2 separate regions of the Homo sapiens genome follow, and region 1 is linked to region 2. Evidence: fine-mapped expression QTL. Tissue or cell type: whole blood. Region 2 holds a variant in brackets; the other region holds the start of a gene. All regions are shown on one strand. Distances are from middle to middle.

The links. PIP is the estimated chance that this variant, and not a neighbour inherited with it, causes the effect.
Region 1: it holds the start of NHLRC3, and the variant in region 2 is fine-mapped to the expression of NHLRC3 in whole blood (TOPMed, PIP above 0.99).

Annotation. Positions count from the first base shown.
Region 1 is chr13:39,031,827-39,043,307 of GRCh38, forward strand. NHLRC3 (NHL repeat containing 3) reads left to right here and starts at 6,630. Exons shown (of 7, transcript NM_001012754.4): 1 at 6,630-6,897; 2 at 7,310-7,462; 3 at 7,738-7,885; 4 at 10,279-10,479. The coding sequence starts at 6,814. It overlaps PROSER1 (proline and serine rich 1), which reads right to left and starts at 6,263. Exons shown (of 13, transcript NM_025138.5): 1 at 5,372-6,263; 2 at 2,305-2,370. The coding sequence starts at 5,416. RefSeq lists an enhancer at 4,492-4,601 and a silencer at 5,744-5,973.
Region 2 is chr13:38,991,319-39,002,799 of GRCh38, forward strand. No RefSeq gene overlaps it. Among named protein-coding and RNA genes, the nearest start is that of STOML3, 6.2 kb to the left of the region's middle. The variant A/C (reference allele first, on the strand shown) is at 5,873.

The DNA.
Region 1 (11,481 bases), 41 kb after region 2:
ATGTAAAAATCAGTTCCTTAGTGACACAAGCTACATTTCAAGTGCTCCAGAGCTATGTGAGGCTGATAACTACAATAATGCACACTGCAGATAGAGAACATTTCTACCACCACAAAAAGTTCTACTAGACAGCACTGGTCTAGAAAGAAAGAAAAATATACAATACAGAAAAAAACAAAGTATCCTAATAGGAAAAGGATGGTTGAGAAGTACTAGATGGAGATCAAATGTCAGCTCAGGATTATAAAGATGGACTGTGAATGGAAAACCTTTCAACACGAGGGGAGAACAGCACTCACAAAGGCACAGTGGTATGTTTTAGTGTAGGTCCACTAACTTTAGTCCTAGTAGGTCCTTTAACTTGAATCTGGAGGGCATAAACTCAAATCATAAATCTAGTCCCTTAAAAATGTTAAGAGTCAACATGAATTACTCCAGCAGCCCCTAAATGATACATCATTTGAGAGCTCAGAGTGTGCAGCTCAGATTAGCTCCCACCACCACCTAAGAACTTCAAACAAATGAGGGAAGCATTATGAGATAGCCAGTAAGAGGGGAGCACAGGGCATAAAGATCAGGACACTGAAGTCTCAGCATGATCACCACCACCCTGTTTGACTGCCTCCAAAGATGCTCCAAAAGGGGAAAAAAGTGATACAAGAAGACAGTTCCTGAAAATACGCTAAGGTTCCAATTATTCTATACAGCAAGGTCAATGGTGCAAACTGGAGTGGTATGTAAAGAGAGTAAAAATAATTTTTACTCCTTATAAAGAGATATATATATATAGCAAATAAGTATTATGTATACTTTCCAGTTAATTTGATAAACGTCTATGTCCTTAACTTTGATGGGAATAATGTTCTTAATATCTAATAAATGCTATATTTTAACCAACCATAAAATTTTACAAGCCACCATATCTAAGATACAAAGAAAAATCTTTAATACAATAAGCTCATTTAGAAAGTGGCTTAATAAACTTTGTAATGACTTTAGCAAAGTGGAAGCATCATTAAGGGTGGTACATCACATACACCCAAGAAAAAAAATGCTATTAGCTGTAAGAAATTATATATCTTTTTAAAACATTTAATTTTTTTTTTTTTTTTGAGACAGAGTTTTGCTCTGTTAGCCAGGCTGGAGCGCAATGGCGCGATCTTGGCTCACTGCAAGCTCTGCCTCCTGGGTTCAAGCAATTCTCCAGCCTCAGCCTCCTGAACAGCTGGGATTACAGGCACCCGCCATCATGCCCGGCTCATTTTTGTATTTTTGTAGAGATGGGGTTTTGCCATGTTGGCCAGTCTGGTCTTGAACTCCTGACCTCAAGTGATCCGCCTGCCTTGGCCTCCCAAAGTGCTGGGACTACAGGTGTGAGCCACTGCACCCAGCCAAAACATTTAAATTTTTAAAAGAGCATAAAGTAACTTTGTAAAGCAATGGGAAAGCTGAAAAACTGACATAAAGACAACAAATGCAAATCATAAAGTAGCTTTTAAGAATTTAGTGGGCAGAACTTCTATAGGCTTAAAAGTCATTTAAGGTTTCAAGTTTTGAAGTTCTTGAGAAACCAATGAAAAGCTGGACCATTTACTAACTCAATTGGAGCATTTACTAACTCAATATATACATTTATTGTCCATCCTTTCCCCAAGCTGTTCTCCAGACATTTCTATTAATATTTATGCCTGACTTCTCTATCAAGAATTTTCCAACTATCCCTCAGAAACATGCCCCCTTGTGTGTGTGACACACATATATTTTAATTAGCAAACTGCCCCTAAGGTGGAATGAAGTTTTCACTAAACTATCATGCTTAAAATGTTAGTATTCTGGCAGTTACAGAAACTACTTATTAAATAACACTGTGTATTTTTCTTACTGTTGAAATTTTTATTTAGTGGCTTCATATAAAAACATATTTCATTATTTGTTCACATTTTCTTTTATATTACATGACGAATTTTGTAATTGTCTTACATGTAACTATAAAAATTTGGGTAAATTTGCCATTACGAGTCTCTAAATCTTTGATATTGTGCCCAGAACCATAAACACTTTGAATTGCTTTAAGACCCTATATTTAAAATCATTTTAAAACATGAATTGGGGTGAAAGTGGAGAGGTGCTTAGTCCCTGAATTATAAATTCTGTAGAGTTTTCTGCCAAAACTGAGAGCTTCTCGAGTTCTTGAATAAATACAGCAAAAAGGTAAAACCAATTCTGAATTCGGCCAGCAGACAGACATTAACCAGAACATTGGTATAAAAAGAAAGCTTTGTTTAAACAAATAATGAGGAATACCTGTTCACTAGAAAAGTATCCATGCACATATTCAATTGCTTTTAATTTGTATTCTGTCAAAACAGCCTAAAAAAAAAAAACACACACACACAGAGTAAAACAGCATTAATATACGTAAGCAGCACAGTAATATACATCTATCAAAACTGCCCAAGCAACTCAACAGTGGCAGGTCTACTTCAGCCCTGTCATTCAGAGGAACTAAGGTCACTGTGGTGAGAGGCCCTTCCTTCCATCTTTCCAGGTTCCATACTGTGAGGGACACACTGAGCAAGCAGGAAGATCTGCTGGGCTTCCCTACCAACTTCTACAAAGAAAGGGAATAAAATTGTAATAGATATGATTCAACATCAGTATACACAACATTTAGAATTCCTAAATATGTAATTAAAGAGTTTCAAAACATTCCAAATCCAAATTGTCATTTTTAAGATTAAACATATCAGATGTTACTCATTCATCAATTATTGAATATCTACTATGTGCTAAGTGACAGAGAAGCAAGAATAAGACAAGGTCTAGTTGAGGCTCTCAGTATTTCTATAGGGACATAAGAATGCAAGAAGTCCTGAATTCAATGTCTGTGCCTGCCACTAACTGGCAGTGTAGACTTTGAGAGGCATTTTAATTCCTTTTGAGCGTCCTCATTCATAGAGGGAACACCATTCACCAACCTCAAAGAATTACTATGAAGACTATAATAGTGGACATTAGATGTGACATATAACAGGTATTCAGTAAGTGATGGTTCCTTTCCTTTTCGGAATCTATCAGTGGGTGAGAGAGAAGTTGGTGGCTTTGATGCAGCACTATCTAGAGCCCACTAAATCACACATGCTCCCCTTGCAGCTATTTGCTCAGCTTAGAGATGGAAACAGCTATCTTAAGTCAGTAGCCACTAATCATTAAAAATGAACTAATCCCTTTGCTTGTACTATAAAATAATTTTAATATTCATATTTTTCACATATATCATTCTGCTAGGAGAAAGTATTATGACCAGTCAACTGAAATATCCTGGGTGCTCAGTAGTTCAATATTCACTGAAAAGGGAGAAAATGGCATTCTAAATAATGTATTCCTAGGAGTTTTATTATCAATGTAATAATCGGACACAGTCAAATACAAGTTTCTGAACAAAGTCTTGGATTGTACTGATGCCAAGTCATATCTCAATTCTTCCATCAATGCCTGAGAGGCCCAGCTGTAACCCCAGGCAGGACAGCATGGTGCTCTGCAAGCATAGTTTGAATACTGCCCCCAGCCCCCAACTTACCACCTAGGGAGTCTTGAGCTGATAGTTAACCTCACAGAGAATAGGCCACCAGCTATAAGCAAGAAGTACAGTGCCTACACCTCATGCGTTGTAAGGAGAATCAAAACAAATAATGACTGGAGAAAGTGCTTAAAAACAGGCTCACAAAGTAAGTGCTCACTAATTAATAGCTATCATTCCCTCCTTTTTGAATAATCAGTTAACCATTGCTTTTTCCCCCTTTCTACTCCCTTTCCCAGTTCTTCTGCTAGTGGCTTCTTATATGCCTCTGTTTTAAATGACAGTAGTGACAATCAGTATTATCTATCATATAAACTCACTGTGATACTCAAGAGATGACCTGGTTTAAACTGACTTACATTTACAAAGAACGATTTTTAAGAAAATCAGTAGTAATGCTCATATTTAGATATGCCAATATTTTATTCCATTTTAATAGACCATGACAATGTTGATGTGTCTAATCACTCGGCAAAGCCAGCAGAAGATATATTTTAACTGCTGACCAGAAATACAGACTTAAGTTGCCATCTCATGTGAACAACACTTTCATATCTGGAAAATTTCCTATTCCCCTCTTTAGAATTTACTGTGACGTTTTTATGACACCAGGAAGAGAATATGCACACTGAGACCCTGTATCTTCCAAAAGTAAAAATCTGCTGGTCTACTTGGACTCACCAATTATTTTCTCATGAAAAGTAATTAAAAATCAGCCCAAGAACAAATTGTGACAAATTTCTAGGCATATAATTAGCAAACCAATATTTTATTTCAAAAATTAATTGGACACTTAGGTTTGCAAAAGCAGAACTTGTTCAAAAAAGAATGTTCAGTATTATCAAATATGAAAACTTAAACACGTCAATTTGAAAAAAGAAAAAAGCTGTATAAAAACAAAGCAAAACAGCAAGACCAGAGACAATTTTAATAATAGCTTTGTAAACTGAAATAAGCACCAGAGCACATGGCAACAATTTCTTCCGTTTCAGTCAAGGGTCGTAAAGGTATGCAGCTGACGAAAGAATAATTGCCCGGAAGGCCGAAGGAAAGCACCGTGTGTTGATGTAACAATGGTACATCAAGTCCTTACATTTTAAAATAAGTAACTTCTCGGTATTTTTGTGCTTGAGATATTGTTAGGCTCAAGACTACCTTCCAGAATTGTTGCTGTCTGGTTCACTCTGGGAAATGCGATCCACACAACAGCCTCAAAAAGCAGCAAAAACTTGGAAAGCAGGAGAAAAAAGTTTTGAAGCTCAAGTTATTGACGGCCAATTCCTAAGAACGTGACTTTAAACTTAATGCCACACTTACCATCAGGACACGAATTTTGCATGGCCAACGCAACAAATATACTCTACCTTATGCTTAGATTTGAAAACCCCATCATAATAACTACCATAAAAGAAACTTTCTGCGTATTACCTCTCGTTTTCAGTCACTCTTGTGTTACTGAAAGATGAGGCAATAAACTCAAAAATATTAAACCCCTTACCCAAAAAGTACAGAGCTATTACGGATTTGTAAAGCCGGCTTTGGAACCGAGGGCTTTACAAATGTAATTCCCACGACACCGTGCTGAGTCTCAAATTTGGCGTTAACGTAACTTAATTTCTATTTGTACTGGAAACGTATCAAGATATAAACTCCTCCATTACACGTGAAAATTCAAACCAATTTGGCAATCCTAGGACCCTTATTCTGCACAATCTCCATACAGTACCTCAAAGAGAGTCTAAAACACGAGAATTCATCTCATAAAATAATTCATGGAATCGGTCTAATTACCTTTCTAATTTCATCCAGCACCATTTCAAAGGACTTTTTATCCATCTTGACTACTATCCCGACGTGGTTTTAACAGTTATACTTGCAATTAAAAGACGTTCATCCCTGGTCTGCTCCGCCGATAGTAAAAAATATTTATAGCTGAGGAGGAAAAAGACTCCACGAGCAAGAGAGGATGCGAAGAGGTAGAGAGTATTGCAAACTTCGCAAAAAAAATTTCTAAAAATTGAGATTCAGAAAAACTCTTTTTATTAAAAAGAAAAAACACTCCAGTCAGGCTTCCCCAGCTTATTCACACAATGGTTCAGGGCACCTCGGGCAAGAGCCAGGTCCTCTGAGTTTTGCAGAAAAACCCGGGCTCGGCGGCAGGTTTGAGTGCGGTTTCCCTGCAGCTGAGGGCCAGGTGCCGCCAGAGGTAGCTCTTGAAGGCGCTTTCCCAGGTGGAGCGGCCGGCAGAGTAGAAACACCTGCGCTCAGAGTCCACGGGCGGCGGGGAGGGAGGCGCCGGTCTCTCGACCCGCACCTGCGCCTCGGCCGCCGGCCGCGACCCTCACCGCCGCGAACCCGGACGCATGGTCCGGCTCGCGCTCATCCCCAGCCGCTCCGCCCGACTCCTGGATACCTCGGCCCCGGCAGCAGGCGGCCCGGCAGGCTCTTTGTTACCAGCTGCTGCAGCTTCCGGGAGCGGGCCGGCGGCTGGGGAGCACCAGGAGCCGGGCGAAGAGGGGCACGGCCTCGCATAGGGGGACTCCGGAAAAACGCAGCCCCAACAGCGCCAGACGCCCTGCCTGGTTACCCCTACAGCCCCCACCAGCTCATGGGGACCTACAATAAAGCCAGTCGCGCCCAAGTAAACTCAACACTGCGCCGCCAGCTTGGGCCCCTCTTTCCTGAAAGCCAGAGGTGGGGTCCTGGTGTGGGAATATAGGCATCCATAGCGGATGCCTGGATGGTAGGAATAGGATGTGGCAAAAATCCTTCCCGAAGCCTAGCGGTCATTATTTTGAATGTCATCCCCACCATACCTCGTGTCTGAGTGTGCGATGTTTTGATTTTGCCCTCTGGATTAAAAAGAATAAATGGCGAGCGATTAAGGCATATCTACGGGCGCCCATACTTTGGTGGCCACTGAAAGTCAGCGGCGCGGACTGCCCTGAGGGCGGGAAAGGGTGGTCACTGGGTCAGCCCGAAGCACCTGACATGAGGGCGGGGACCCCGAAATGCACACGAAGTCCGGAACTGGTCTTCTGTGATTTTCATTCGCCCTGGTCTCTGTTCCCTTTCGTACTCAAAGCTCGTGCATCCAGGGAGGGGAAACCGGAGATAGGGTCTTCGGGCCCCGGGCAGACCCTCTGTGCCGCTGCAAACCGTTGCAGCCTGAGGCTGTCAGGTCCTCCCCCAGACACCTGCGGACCCTCCCTCTCCTGGCTTCCCGTCTGGTCATGGCGAGATTCTGGGTCTGCGTAGCCGGTGCTGGCTTCTTTCTTGCATTTTTGGTTTTGCATTCGCGTTTTTGTGGCTCTCCAGTGAGTTGGGTAGTGAGGAAATGACTGTCGGGTGTGCGGGTAGCCCTGTTGGGAGGCGTCGCCACGGTCGTGGCATGGAGGTGGCAGGCCCTGGTTCCCTCAGTAGCTTGTCTCAAAGCCTGCACCTGGGTCCAAACTGCCTTGACCCTTTGAGTTTAAAAATTTGTGTATGTTACATCGCCATTTTCCTCTTTCCCAACTCTTACTACATCCTCAAATAATTTGCAGACTTGTATTGTGGTCGTGTTGGTCTTTAGGCATCTAAGCTCATTTCTTTGGAATTATTTCAGTCCAGCAAACTTCTAGTTGTCAAGGCATGCTTAAAAATAAGCCCTGTTACCCGGCCCCCCCGCCCTTTTTTTGTTCTTACCTAGACGGTAAACTAAATCTGAATTGTCTGATTTTGTTTAAGGTTTTGAGGAACTTTACTTTTGCAGTTTCCTGGAGAACTGAGAAAATTCTTTACCGGCTGGATGTGGGTTGGCCTAAGCACCCAGAATATTTTACCGGAACAACATTTTGTGTTGCAGTTGACTCCCTCAATGGATTGGTTTACATAGGTCAAGTAAGTAAATAGAGATTTAAAAAAATTATGAACACAAAGGAAGTAACAGCCTTCCTGTCTTGCTGTAGTAACTGACCATATGCGTTTATATCATGCTAATTGTGCAATTTATTTTTGAGTTGGTCTCAAGTATTTTGGTTTCGAATGTGAAAGATATGTTAGATTTTGAAAGTGGTTTTTGTAGTAAAATTCTCAGTTATTTTTTTTCTTCGCCAAGATACAGATTACCTTTCCTTTAAGCTGATCCTAAGAAGTTATTTTTTGTATACCTTCAGAGAGGGGATAACATCCCAAAGATATTAGTGTTCACAGAGGATGGATATTTCCTACGAGCCTGGAATTATACAGTTGACACACCTCATGGTATATTTGCAGCCAGTACTCTATATGAACAATCCGTCTGGATCACGGATGTAGGAAGTGGTATGTATAGTAATATCTATTAAATTATCTTACTGGAAATCACATCTTTGCACATGTCCTTGTTTGTATTGTTTAAAATCAGAGTTGCTGAATCTAATTGTAATTTCTTTAACGATTCATGAAATCACATGTTTTTAACAAACTTTATTTTGTACTTCTGTGGAATTAAGAAATTTAACAAGGGCTGGACGCCGTGGCTCACGCCTGTAATCCCAGCACTTTGGGAGGCCGAGGCGGGCGGATCACGAGGTCAGGAGATCGAGACGATCCTGGCCAACACGGTGAAACCCCCGTCTCCACTAAAAATACAAAAAAAAAAAAAAAAAATCAGCCAGGCGTGGTGGCGGGCGCCTTTAGTCGCAGCTACTGGGGAGGCTGAGGCAGGAGAATGGCGTGAACCCGGGAGGCGGAGCTTGCAGTGAGCCGAGATCGCGCCACTGCACTCCAGCCTGGGTGACACAGCGACACTCTGTCTCAAAAAAAAAAAAAAAAAGAAAGAAATTTGACAAGGAGCCTGTTAATATGATCTTTCCTTGAACTTGTCTAGGGTCTTTTCCTCTTTAAAGCATCAGTTGCTCTTCTCAGATTAAATAACTCTAAACTGAAGCCAAATAAAGTGGCAGTCTCTGAAAGCAATGACTGGAATCCTTGACTCTTATTTTCCTTTTCCAGTTTTCTTTCATAAAAGATTGTGAAATCGTAACTGCTTTGTTGCTCAAAGTGCAAAGATTGCAGAAACTGTTGTTAATGTTTTTGAAATTCTACTGACTGAAGCATGTCTGAAATCTTCCTGCCATCAAATATTTTTAGTAGAAAAAGCTGAAAAATGAAGTGAGCACAACTGAATGTGCAGCTATGGAGAAAGTTTTCAGAGAAACAATTCACCTGTGGCTGTAGCTTAAGACAAGGCAATACCTGAGATATCCTGGCATTACCCTAGGAATTCAGGAAGAAATGGGATTATAAAGACATTATTTCTAGTATTCCTTGGCCCAGTTATGTTCTTGAATTGAGAGACATCCTGGTTCTACAGTCCTGGCTGATTCAGATACCATTTTTTAGAGATAATGAGTTCTCAGTTTCTGTAAGTAGTGCCATTATCACAGCTGTTCTCAGAACCCATAAGATTTCTGGGCCTCAGCTGATGGCCCATTTATTTCATGCTGTGTTTTACATAGTATGAATCTGGTTCAACCAAAAAAAGTCTATAGATTATCACTGAGTGAATTGTTAATACTATAATGAGAGTCTATTTTCACTTTTTTCCTGAAGATCCACTGTTAAAGACCATTTCTTTGAGTTCATTTTATTCATGTGATTTTTAAAAATAAGACTTCCTTGATTCCCAGAAATAAAAAGAGCACAGACGATCTCTTCATTTTTTCCATTACAGCTAATTTTCTACCCAGAGATCTGAAGACAGTTTTATATTCCCATTTCCCAAAGGAATAAATTTCCTCTAATGAAAAATATGGCTACAAATTAGCCTTTTTTTTTTGAGAAAATTTTTTATTGGTAGTCTTTTTTGCTAGTTTTTAGAAACTTGGAGGCTTATGTGTTTTTTATTGCTATGAACTTTAGCTCAACTGTCTAAAAGTGTAATAGTAAATAAATTATTTAACATAGAATTGTAATGCAAGCTGATTCACTTTCTTTCTGGTAAGCTCAATGTATCCAGTTTGTCTTTTGAATACCTATCAATTAATTTGGCATATGTACCTTCAAATTGATTTCTGTTCACTGCTTTATGATATTCCCTTATTAGTAGTCTGCTTTATGCTCTTGCTTGTAAGATAATTTTAACTTAAAGAAATTTTAACGTGAGAAAATAAGATACTCATGATTTACAAAGATTATTTTCTTCTTAGCAAAGAAAAGTTGGGTTGAATTTTGAATGTCTCCACAAGGTGAAAATGCAGTTAAAAAAAAAATCTGTACCATAGAGAACGTTTTTGTTGACTTACTGAAATTTAAGGTCTGTATGTGAGTGATTGAAATAACAGTTTCAAATATAAGTTGTTCCCTTTACATTTTCTTCTTGATTTCCTTTCATAAGCAATGCTTATTCAAGGTCATAAGATTAAAAAAGAAAATGGTGCACCAATACTTTGTTAGCATTCTGAGTTTCCTGTATAATGAGTCAATTATGGGGATGTTATTTATTTGAATTTAGAATCCGCTTATTTTGGACTAATGGAGATTTTAATTCGTGATCAAATTTGGCTGTAATTTACGAAGAAGCTATAGTGCTTGTCAATTATATGTAATTTCCTAAGCCTATCACCTATTTGTTATTATTTACTTCTATCAAATTTTTGCTCTTAGCTTACTTGAAAAATCTGAATGTTTGTATAGTGGTTTTATTTGTGAGATGTACATATCTATCTTTATAGGATTCTTTGGTCATACTGTTAAAAAATACAGTTCTTTTGGTGATCTTGTTCAAGTCTTGGGTACTCCAGGCAAAAAAGGCACTAGTTTGAATCCTTTGCAGTTTGATAACCCAGCAGAATTATATGTAGAGGACACAGGAGATATTTACATTGTGGATGGAGATGGAGGATTGAATAACAGATTGATCAAACTGTCCCAAGGTACATTACTTGTTTATGGTATTATAAAAATATTATAAATTGATTTTAATTTGTTCGATATTTGGTATAATGTTTTAAGTGTTGTGTATGAAGCGGTGTGTAAAGAGCTAAGTGTATTACTACGAGAAAACTGAAAAACAGATGGGTATGATTGCCCACAATAAATGATCCTGATAACAGGCCCACTTATTCTTCACCAAAGGCCAGGAGATTCCTCCAAAAGTAACTGGCAACAGTATGAGAATTTCTAGTGGGCTCAGGAGATAAGTGTGTATCCTATTTAATTAAGCATGTAGAAATTAGAAACCTAGAATCCCAGACTCAAGTATCCTACAGGCTGATTAATCAGCAAGCATTTTATTGAGTGCCCTTTCTGTGTCCTCTCTAGTATCAGGAGGTGCAGATCTATTATGTATTGAAACAATGAAATGTAGTCTATGCTATTGATTCTTAAAGCAAAATGGACTTAGGAGGAGAAACTAAATTGCCTGGAGAAATAGAACAAGATATCATGAAGGAAGTAGTTATTGAACTAAACTAGTTTTGGTGGGAGGAGAGGGGAGGATGGATGGAACATTCATGGAGGGTTTATCATGCATGGTCTACAGGCATTTATTAGCAGGAAAGAAGGTGAAGATGCACTTTTTCAGCAGCAGAAAATACAATTTGGGATGTTTCTGAAGTCTTATTTGAGGATTATTAAAGCCATGTTTTTGCCTATAACATTTTTGAGGTTTTCCTAGTAGAAAAGTGATGTTACAACAGCAGGTTTTATAAGACATTCTTTTAGGATCTACTTCAAGTGAGCTCTGTCATTTGGAGGCTGTGTAGTCAATTTATCAATTAGTAACTGAATTTGGTTGATAACAGTTGAAAGGGAAATGTAGAATAAGGATAAAGCAAGAATCCAAAAAATTGAATGAAAGAAACAACGAAATCTAGGAGACAGATTGAATATAAGTGTATTAGTTTCCTGTGGTTGCCATAACAAATTGCCACAAA
Region 2 (11,481 bases):
CAGCCTCACTCATGTGTCTCTCCGTGAAGCAGCTCCATTGGTCTCCTATCAGTGCCTCCAAAGCTTGATATGTCTTCTCGCCACCGGATCTTTGCACGTGTTATCATATGCATAATTTTTTGGCTTGTGTCTGTTTCTTCTTCTAGACCAAGAATTGACAAACTTTAGCTTGCCAGCTAAATTTAATTTACCACTTGTTTTTAAAACATAAAGTGTTATTGGAACACAGTATGTCCTTTTGTTGCTTTCTTTTTTTTTTTTTTTTTTTTGAGATAGGATTTCACTCTGTTGCCCAGGCTGGAGTGCAGTGGCACAATCACAGCTCACTGCAATCTCGACCTGCCAGGCTCAAGCAATCTTCCTACCTCAGCCTCTTCAACAGCTGGGACTCCAGGTGCACACCACCATACCTGGCTAATTTTTAATTTTTTTTTTTTTTAGAGATGGGGCCTCACTATATTGCCCAGGCTGGTCTCAAACTCTGGGCTCAAATGATCCTTCAGCCTTGGTCTCCCAAACTGCTGGGATTGTAGATATGAGCCACCATGCCCAGCTCTTTCATTTTTGTATTGTCTGTGCTCACTTTTGCACTGCACCCGTGGATTTGAGTAGTTGTGACACAGACCATACAAGCTGTAAGGCCTAAAATATTTACTGTTTGTCCCTTCACAAAAAAAGTTTGCTGACCCCTGCCTTGCACTATACATTTCCATGAGGAGAGTGACTTGGTCTAACATTTCCATTGCATCTGCAACAATTAGAACAACGTGGGCACATGATTGATGTTCAACAATACTTGCTGAATGAATGAATATATAAATCACAAATGAAAACAGCTCTCAAATGGCAAAGCTCTTTCTCAAATCCAGATCCTTAGGATCCTGTACTAGGATTCCTTCTTTCATCAGACCACATAGAACCACAGACAATTTTGTGGTTATTCCAATACTAAGAACACCAATTTTCTAATTTTCTGATGTTCATTTCTCTCATATCAATATCCCAAATATATCTTGTTTTTCTTTTGTATACCATTATATTTATTGTATGGCATTTATTATATTATATTGTATTATTTTGTGAAAACAGTAGAAAAAATCTCTAATCTCTCCCTGGCCTTCTTGTCTTTTCTGGTTTTTCTTCTGCCAACCACCTAGTTATTTCCTTCTTTGCAACTTCATCTTAAAACTTTTCTCAGATTCCAGCCTGGGCAACATGGTAAAACCCCATCTCTACTAAAAATACAAAAATTAACCAGGCATGGTGGCATGCACCTATAGTCCTAGCTACACTGGAGGTTGAAGTGGGAAGATTGATTGAGCTTGGGAAGCAGAGGTTACAGTGAGTCAAGATGGCTCCACTGCACTCCAGCCTGGGTGACACAGCGAGACCCCAACTCAAAAAAGAAAAAAACAAAAGTAAAAAATTTTCCAGGTTATGGGTTATTTATACCAACTACTTGATAATCTTGATTGCCTTTTCCACAAACTCAAATTGTGGAAATAACTACTATGGCTGTCATCCACAGTTTGTAATTACAATAATTAATACAGAGTTTTAGAAATTTAGGAAAGGAGACAAGAACACAGATTAAAACAGACATGCATAATGTGTGCAGAGTCAGCAACTGTCTGCTCTAGGATAGTTTTCTCTGCACCTCCCTTAAACATCCTCGCTTACAGCTCCAAGTAGAAATGTTGCTGGAGGCACAGTGGGCAGGAGAGAAGGCTCTGGGCTCATACTGCCCAGATACAAAGAAAACTTTGCTCTGTCATGAACTAGTGTGTGACATTGGGTAAGCTATTTAACCTCTGTGTTTTATTTTTCTCATCTGTAAAATGGGGATGGTAATATAATATTTACCAAAGAGAGTTGCCTGTATGAGAATCTTATGAAAATTACATGTAAAATATTCAGAATAATGACTAACATTAATAAATGGTAACTATTATTACCATGAATGGAAGCTGGGCTGTATTTCTAAGGACTGAGTTAACTTCTCTCTACAATGGCAAGATTGGGCTAATTTTCACAATGTCTCCCTTGTCCCCTAATTTCAAGTGAAAGGAAGACTGATAGAGATTGATTTGGTATGTCCATACATTTATCAACTCTCTTCTCTCTCTGATCTAATGCTACCTTAAAAACTCGAGGCCCATTCCTGGTCTGTATTGTCATATAATTGCCATCCCGTTTCTTCCGGCCTCTACTTTATCACCATGTCATCATCACTTTGTAACTAACCTCTCATGGAAAGAGCAACAGAAAAACTTCCTGTTTCCATCATTTCTCCCGACTTAAGCCAAAGACAATCTTTGCCTGGAACTGAAAGCCCCTTTCCCTTTGAGTCAGATGCTTCTCCATAGTCATACAGCAAAGTGTTCTGGAGGTGCTAGTTTAGCTTATTTCTAAATACATTTTCTCTTAATATTAGCCAAATACCATTTATGCTAGCACTGCCAGTCACTGAGGTGGAAGGTTCAAAGCAACAGAAACAATAATTATTCCCTGGGAGCCACTACAAAGAGCCTCAAGAGTGCTTGCTATGGTCCATCCCTTTGGAAGATGACTAAGCAACTGTTTTTCTTTTTCCTAAAGAAAGTTTCAAATGTCTCAGCCTAGAAAGCAAGAAGGGTTTCAGCAAGCAATGAACACCTATGACAAACTGAATCCTCATAGCAGGGCCTCAGGAAATGAAACATGAGCTCATTTTCAAGTTTCCTACTTCTTTTTCTGTAAAATATAAATTAGCCCAGTGGATGAATTATTATCATCTGTGGATGTTCTTTCACTTATCCTGGGAAAGGAGGATACGGGAATTTCTGGAAGATGCTTCGGATGAAGACTTTTCAGTGTTTCTGCATTTTCATTTTATCAATTTCTGCACTAGTGAAAGTACTGAGATGAGGACAGCTTTTTATTTTATTTATTTATTTATTTTTTTTGAGATGGAGTCTCTCTGTCACGCAGCCTGGAGTGCAGTGGTGCAATCTCGGCTCACTGCAACCTCCGCTCCCCCTGTGCCAGGGGTCAAGCGATTCTCTGATGCCTCAGCCTCCCAAGTAGCTGGGATTACAGTCATGTGCCACCACGCCCAGCTAAGTTTTGTGTTTTTAGTAGAGATGGGGTTTTGCCATGTTGCCCAGGCTCATCTTGAACTCCAGGCCTCAAGCGATCCACCCAACTCAGCCTTCCAAAGTGCTGGGATTACAGGCATGAGCCAATGACCCTGGCTGAAGACAGCTATGTTTTTAAAAGGCCTAATTCTATTCCCACTCTTGACATACAGGACATGTGTCCTTAAGTATGTATATATTTTTTTCCCTGAATGTTCACCTTATAGCACAAACCCTCTCTTGAGACAATCCTTTCTAAACTTCCACCTATTTCCTTTCCTAAGCTTCTGGTTTCAGACATCACCCACCATCCTTTCTTGCTAAGATGTATCCAGGTGTTCCAGGACAGTGGCTGCTCTCTTAAGAAAACATGCCCTTTTCTTTAAATTGAAATTCTCTGATCTCTTTAACTTTTTTACGAATATACATCATACATTCTAACTTATCCATTCTCATTTATTCCATTCTTGAATTCCCACTTTTTTTTTTCTTTTTTTTTTTTGAGATGGAGTCTCACGCTCTGTCACCTAGGCTGGAGTGCAGTGGCCCAAACTCGGCTCACTGCAACCTCTGCCTTCCTGGTTCAAGCAATTCCCCTGCCTCAGCCTCCCAAGTAGCTGGGATTACAGATGCACGCCGCCACGCCCGGCTAATTTTTATGTATTTTTAGTAGACACGGGGTTTCACCATGTTGGCCAGACTGGTCTCGAACTCCTGACCTCAGGCAATCCACCCACCTCGGCCTCCCAAAGTGCTGGGATTACAGGCGTGAGCCGCGCCCTGCCGAATTCTCACATTTTAAAATGAGAAATTCGGTCTCCAAATCTGTAAAGATATTTATAGTGATAACTCCCCAAGCTGCAAATCTGGCTTATACCTCTCTTCAGAATAATAAATATTTTTAACTATCGGCTGACGAAACATCTCTACCTGGACGTCCCCCAATTAAATATTCTATACGTTAGAACGAAATCTATTGAATTAAGGCGTTTGTATTATGGAATACTGTTGATATATTTAACATGTATGTATTTATTGAATAAAGTAAACAACCATCAATATACCACACAACAGCACCACTAGAATATTACCAATACCATTGAAACTACTTGCATATTCCTCCTGGGTCTCATCCTCACCTCTCTAAAACCGTAATTTATAATTTTGTTGATTATTCTCTTGCTTTTAAAATAGAACCTTTTAAATTATATATTTACATTTCTAAAACACTTATGATTTAGTTTTGCTTTTGCCTTTTTAAAAAATACCCATGTAGGCTGGGGGCGGTGGCTCATGCCTGTAATCCCACCACTTTGGGAGGCCGAGGCGGGTGGATCACGAGGTCAGGAGATCGAGACCATCCTGGCCAACATGGTGAAACCTCGTCTCTACTAAAAATACAGGAATTAGCTGGGCATGGTGGCGTGTGCCTGTAATCCCAGCTACTCAGGAGGCTGAGGCAGGAGAATCACTTGAACCGGGGAGTCAGAGGTTGCAGTGAGCCAAGATTTTGCCACTGCACTCCAGCCTGGCAACAGAGTGAGACTCCATCTCAAAAAAAAAAAAAAAAAAAAAACTCATGAGTGCTCTGCAATTTCCTTTGACATTCCATATTATGTTGCAGGAAGCTATTGCTCTTTAATTTTTAGTGCTATTTAAGACATAGAAGTGTAAACGGGCCACAGTTCACTTATTTATTTGGATACTTTTAGGTTTTCATTATTACAAATGATACTATCATGAATGTTTTGTACATATCTTCTGGTTGTGTATACATGCAAGAGTTTCTCTAAGGCCCTAAAATCCAGATATATACATCTTGAGATGAAACTGTTATATTTTATGTTCAACTTTACAAGATTATTGTAAACAACTTTGTAAAAATATTTTCCAAAGTAGTTTATGTCAATTTAATCTTACTAGTCGTGTACAAGTATTCCTTTTGTTCCAAATCATTGATGGCACTTGTTCATACTTGACTATCTGGTCAGTGTAAAATAGCATTTCATTATAATCTGACTTTAGATTTCTCGGAGTTTTAATAAGGCAGAACAAGTTACACATGGTTATTTACAATTTGTGTTTTCTCCTTTGTGAGTTGCACATACATGCCCTTTGCTCCTATTTTGGGCTTCTTCTTGCAAATTTAATAAGTAGTCTTTATATATACTTGCTATATACATGTCGAGTACTTCTTATCCAAAATGCATAGGACTTAGAAGTGTTTCAGATTTTGGATTTTAGAATATTTGCGTATACATGAGATATCTTGGGGGTTGGCACCCAAATCTAAGCATTCAATTCATTTATGTTTCATATACGCCTTATACACGTAGCCCGAAGGCAACTTTGTACAAGACTTAATAATTTTATATGGAACAAAGTTTGTGTACATTGAACTCATGTGGACAGTCTGTGGTTTTTTGGCATGATCATCATTCTTGACTGAATTTCTACGCTACCAATAAGCAATCATTTTCTTATGCTTATTCACACATAAGTACTTAACAATAAAAGCTATGACACCCCGTTAACACAGTGAAAAAATAATGTGTGTAGCAGCACAGCAGCATCACCAGAATACCTGGCTCAGCTGTTAAACAGCAGCAACAACAAGCAAACAACGGCAGGCTTTCAGCCTCTAGCTATGATGCTGTGTTTGTGTTTCGATTAAAAGGCTACAATAGACTGTATTTTATTTTTTTTAGGTGGGAAGAAACATCAGAAGCATGGGCCCTCTAGGGATGAGGAGACAT[A/C]CTGCTGGAAGGCCTTTTAAACGATTTCCTCCAGAGTCATCTGCCTCATTAACAACAGTTTTTGTCTTAGATGTCTCTCTTGGATTTTATAAACTTACATTATTTCCTGTTCTGTTATAAATGCATGCTGCTCTACTCCTTCACTAAGCCCATCACACATTTTCATCATGTTGTCTAGAGGCACTTTTTTGCAGTATTAACATCATCTTCATCATCACTAATATCACGATCACCTTGATTCAAAATCATTTTGGCTATTTCACAATCCACCAATGAATAAACAACTGGAGCCTCATTATTGAAGGTACAAACTTCTTTAATATCAATTTCTTCCCGTTTATTGATAGACTCTGAAATAATTTTTTTTGCATATATAAGGAGGTCAGACTTTTTTTTTTCTCATTTGACATGTGGAATCCTTCGAAGTCTCCATCTTGTTCGTCACCTTCATTGAATGTAGTCACAGGCCAGAGGCTGTGCCAGGCGTGTACCACTGTGGCCTTAGTTCTGTGTTTCAAGAGAACACAACAGCATATATGGTACCTGTCATGACAAAACCACGTTGAAAACCTTCCACACGCATAGCCTCCATTCACTGCTGCTAGCATACTGGTCAAGAAAGTGTTCTCACTTTCACTCTTCGTTTATCTAAGAATGCTCTGGTCACATAGCTAATGAGTTAATGAAGTCACATTTTGGGGAAAGTACATGACATAAACATTTTTGATGAGAATTTCATTTGGAGAATGAGCAGAATAGCTATCAAGGAATAAAAAATTCTTGTGGTCATCATCCAGCCTAGCTTCCTTGCAGTGAGCAAGAGCTGCTGATATAAAATGTCTGTGAAGCCAGTCAGAAAAGCAGTCCCTGATTGTCCATGACTTTTTTTTTTTTGTCAGAATAATGGACAGGTAAGAAATTAATTTCTTGGAAACAGCCAGGGATGCAGGCTTTTGCCTATCACAGCAAGTGTACCCTTATGTGTGTCTGCTGCATTAGCACATCTCAGCACAGATATTCTGTCCTTGGCATCCTTAATGCCTGTAGGGGCTGCCTCATCAGCTGTAGTCAGTGTCTTTCCAGGGCAGTAAGGACAAAACAGTGATGTTCATCAGCAGCATAGACTTGTTTTGGCATCAGATTTTGATCGGTGATGACCCTGACAAATTCATTAATGAATTTCTTCACTGACCTGTGACCAGTAGATGCCTTATCACCACAAAGGTTTAAAAATGCAATGCCATGTCTTGTGTTAAATTTCTGCAACCAGCCTGTCGCGTATTCATGGTTCCCGTTAATTTTCAGTTTATCATGATCAATCTTTGCTTGTTTCATGATCAGCATACCATTAAGCAACATATGTTTACTGTAACACTGATGAATCAACTCTTCCAATACACAATTGAGATCTTCATTTTTAGCTGTATGTAGTGTTTTTCTATTTTTGATTCACTTCTGTTCATCACTTTTAGCATAGAACTTCAACAGTTTATCCTTCTGTTTCTGCAGGCCATATATGGTGGTCATTCCAATGACATACTCTTCTGAAAGATATACCACACTTATGCCACTGTCCAGTTCCTCCAACAGCTTGGTTTTCTATCAAACTATAGATAAACATAAGTGCTTCCTTATTTTCTTATTACTTATAAGGGTGTCTACAGGTCTTTTTGACATTTTCATGGTATCTTTACACCACAGAGCAGAGAATAAGTGAGTCATGTCCACAGGACTTGGCTTCATGTGGGGCATGATAGAGAGCCTGCCTTCAGTGTGTCTGGCCTGCACATGTGCTATTTTTATCACCCTTTGTGGGGGTATGTTTGAGTGGGGACTCAGGATGCACGGAAAAGATAACGTCGTAGCTGAAAAAGGCTGGGAAGGTCTTTTTCCCCTTGCAGATGCTGAATAAACTGCATTGTGTGCCTGGATTCTGACTGTGACCTGTCCATGAGACCAGGTGTGAAAGAGTGCACTTGTGGTGTCATGTTGGTGCTCAAAGTTTTGGATTTTGGAGTGTTTCAGATTTCAGATTTTCTGATTTTTGGATTAGGGATATTCAACATGTATATAAATATATGCACACCTACACAATGTGTGGGCGTGTATATACACTTTATACATTATATGTACTTATGAATATTTGATACTTGACAGCACATAAGTGGCAAATATATTTTTCCAGTTGTCACTTATTTTTTCACCTTTTTAATGATGTGTTTGATATCAAATATATAAAATTTCAATATATTTAATGCTTGGTGTGCCTTGTTTAAAAATCCTTCCCTTCCTAAGGTCTTGAAGACTGAAATATCAAGCCTTGATAATTAGTGGAGAAAGTCCTTCTACTTTATTCATTCTCTTCAGAAGAATTTTGGCTATTTTTCACCCTCTGGTCACCCATACATTTTAGAATAAGTTCATAAAACTTATTTAAAACGTTGGGATTTTGATTGGAATGGTGTGAAATTTGGAGACTGAGAGATTTTATATTCTAAGGCTATGATTCATAAATATGATCACTGTGTATTCTCCATTTAAGTAGGTTTTCTTTTTTTTTTTTTTTCTTGAGATGGAGTCTTGCTCTGTTGCCCAGGCTGGAGTGCAATGGCGCAATCTCGGCTCACTGCAAGCTCCGCCTCCTGGGTTCCCACCATTCTCCTGCCTCAGCCTCCCAAGTAGCTGGGACTACAGGTCCCTGCCACCATGCCCAGCTAATTTTTTTTTTGTATTTTTTTAGTAGAGACGGGGTTTCACCGTGTTAGCCAAGATGGTCTAGATCTCCTGACCTTGTGATCCGCCTGCCTCAGCCTCCCAAAGTGCTGGCATTACAGGCGTGAGCCACTGCACCTGGCCTAAGTAGGTTTTCTTTAATGATGCTTATGAAGTTTAAAAACAAATTCACCGTAAAATTATTACTCATCTTTTGTAGGATTTGTTACTAGGTGACATGTCACCATTTTCTTCTTTTGAAAAGAGCATACTAGCCAGGCATGGTGGCTCATGCCTGTAATCTCAGCACTTTGGGAGGACAAGGTGGGTGGATTGCCTGAGCCCAGGATTTCAAGACTAGCCTGGGCAACATGGCAAAACCATTTCTCTACAAAAAATACAAAAATAAATAAATAAATAAAATCAGTCAGCCATGGTGGTGTGCACCTGTAGTGCCAGCTACTCAAGAGGCTGAGGTGGGAAGATTACCTGACCCAGGGAGGTCCAGGCTGCAGTGAGCTGTGATCACTTCACTACACTCCAGCCTAGGTGACAGAGGGAGACTCTGCCTCAAAAAAGAAAAACCAAAACTAAAAGAAAAGAGCATGCTATTGATACTGTTGCTCATGTTTGAAAATGCAACTGACCTTTGAATATAATGAATCTGAATCTCACTAAGCTTTATTAATTCAAATAATTTGTCACCTCTGAATATTGTCTGCTTTATATATCTTCCTTTCCAATCCTTACACTTTTTACTTTTTTTGTACCTTACTACACTTGCTACGATGTCTGATACAATGCTGAATTACTTTCCTTGATTGACATCTGCTTTTAAAGGGGTATTTCTAGCATTTCATAGTTAAAAATAAAGTATGCCATAAATACTATCATAGATTTCTTTTACTTGGAAGGTTTTTTTTTTATTATACTTTAAGTTTTAGGGTACATGTGCACATTGTGCAGGTTAGTTACATATGTATACATGTGCCATGCTGGTGCGCTGCACCCACTAACTCGTCATCTAGCCTTAGGTATATCTCCCAATGCTATCCCTCCCCCCTCCCCCGACCCCACCACAGTCCCCAGAGTGTGGTATTCCCCTTCATGTGTCCATGTGATCTCATTGTTCAATTCCCACCTATGAGTGAGAATATACGGTGTTTGGTTTTTTGTTCTTGCGATAGTTTACTGAGAATGATGATTTCCAATTTCATCCATGTCCCTACAAAGGATATGAACTCATCATTTTTTATGGCTGCATAGTATTCCATGGTGTATATGTGCCACATTTTCTTAATCCAGTCTATCATTGTTGGACATTTGGGTTGGTTCCAAGTCTTTGCTACTGTGAATAATGCTGCAATAAACATACGTGTGCATGTGTCTTTATAGCAGCATGATTTATAGTCATTTGGGTATATACCCAGTAATGGGATGGCTGGGTCAAATGGTATTTCTAGTTCTAGATCCCTGAGGAATCGCCACACTGACTTCCACAATGGTTGAACTAGTTTACAGTCCCACCAACATTGTAAAAGTGTTCCTATTTCTCCACATCCTCTCCAGCACCTGTTGTTTCCTGACTTTTTAATGATTGCCATTCTAACTGGTGTGAGATGATATCTCATAGTGGTTTTGATTTGCATTTCTCTGATGGCCAGTGATGATGAGCATTTTTTCATGTGTTTTTTGGCTGCATAAATGTCTTCTTTTGAGAAGTGTCTGTTCATGTCCTTCGCCCACTTTTTGATGGGGTTGTTTGTTTTTTTCTTGTAAATTTGTTTGAGTTCATTGTGGATTCTGGATATTAGCCCTTTGTCAGATGAGTAGGTTGCGAAAATTTTCTCCCATGTTGTAGGTTGCCTGTTCACTCTGATGGTAGTTTCTTTTGCTGTGCAGAAACTCTTTAGTTTAATTAGATCCCATTTGTCAATTTTGGCTTTTGTTGCCATTGCTTTTGGTGTTTTGGACATGAAGTCCTTGCTTTTGGTGTTTTGGACATGAAGTCCTTGCCCATGCCTATGTCCTGAATGGTAATGCCTAGGTTTTCTTCTAGGGTTTTTATGGTTTTAGGTCTAACGTTTAAATCTTTAATCCATCTTGAATTGATTTTTGTATAAGGTGTAAGGAAGGGATCCAGTTTCAGCTTTCTACATATGGCTAGCCAGTTTTCCCAGCACCATTTGTTAAATAGGGAATCCTTTCCCCATTGCTTGTTTTTCTCAGGTTTGTCAAAGATCAGATAGTTGTAGGTATGCGGCATTATTTCTGAGGGCTCTGTTCTGTTCCATTGATCTATATCTCTGTTTTGGTACCAGTACCATGCTGTTTTGGTTACTGTAGCCTTGTAGTGTATAGTTTGAAGTCAGGTAGTGTGATGCCTCCAGCTTTGTTCTTTTGGCTTAGGATTGACTTGGCAATGCGGGCTCTTTTTTGGTTCCATATGAACTTTAAAGTAGTTTTTTCCAATTCTGTGAAGAAAGTCATTGGTAGCTTGATGGGGATGGCATTGAATCTGTAAATTACCTTGGGCAGTATGGCCATTTTCACGATATTGATTCTTCCTACCCATGAGCATGGAATGTTCTTCCATTTGTTTGTATCCTCTTTTATTTCCTTGAGCAGTGGTTTGTAGTTCTCCTTGAAGAGGTCCTTCACATCCCTTGTAAGTTGGATTCCTAGGTATTTTATTCTCTTTGAAGCAATTGTGAATGGGAGTTCACTCATGATTTGGTTCTCTGTTTGTCTGTTGTTGGTGTATAAGAATGCTTGTGATTTTTGTACATTGATTTTGTATCCTGAGACTGCTGAAGTTGCTTCTCAGCTTAAGGAGATTTTGGGCTGAGACGATGGGGTTTTCTAGATAAACAATCATGTCGTCTGCAAACAGGGAC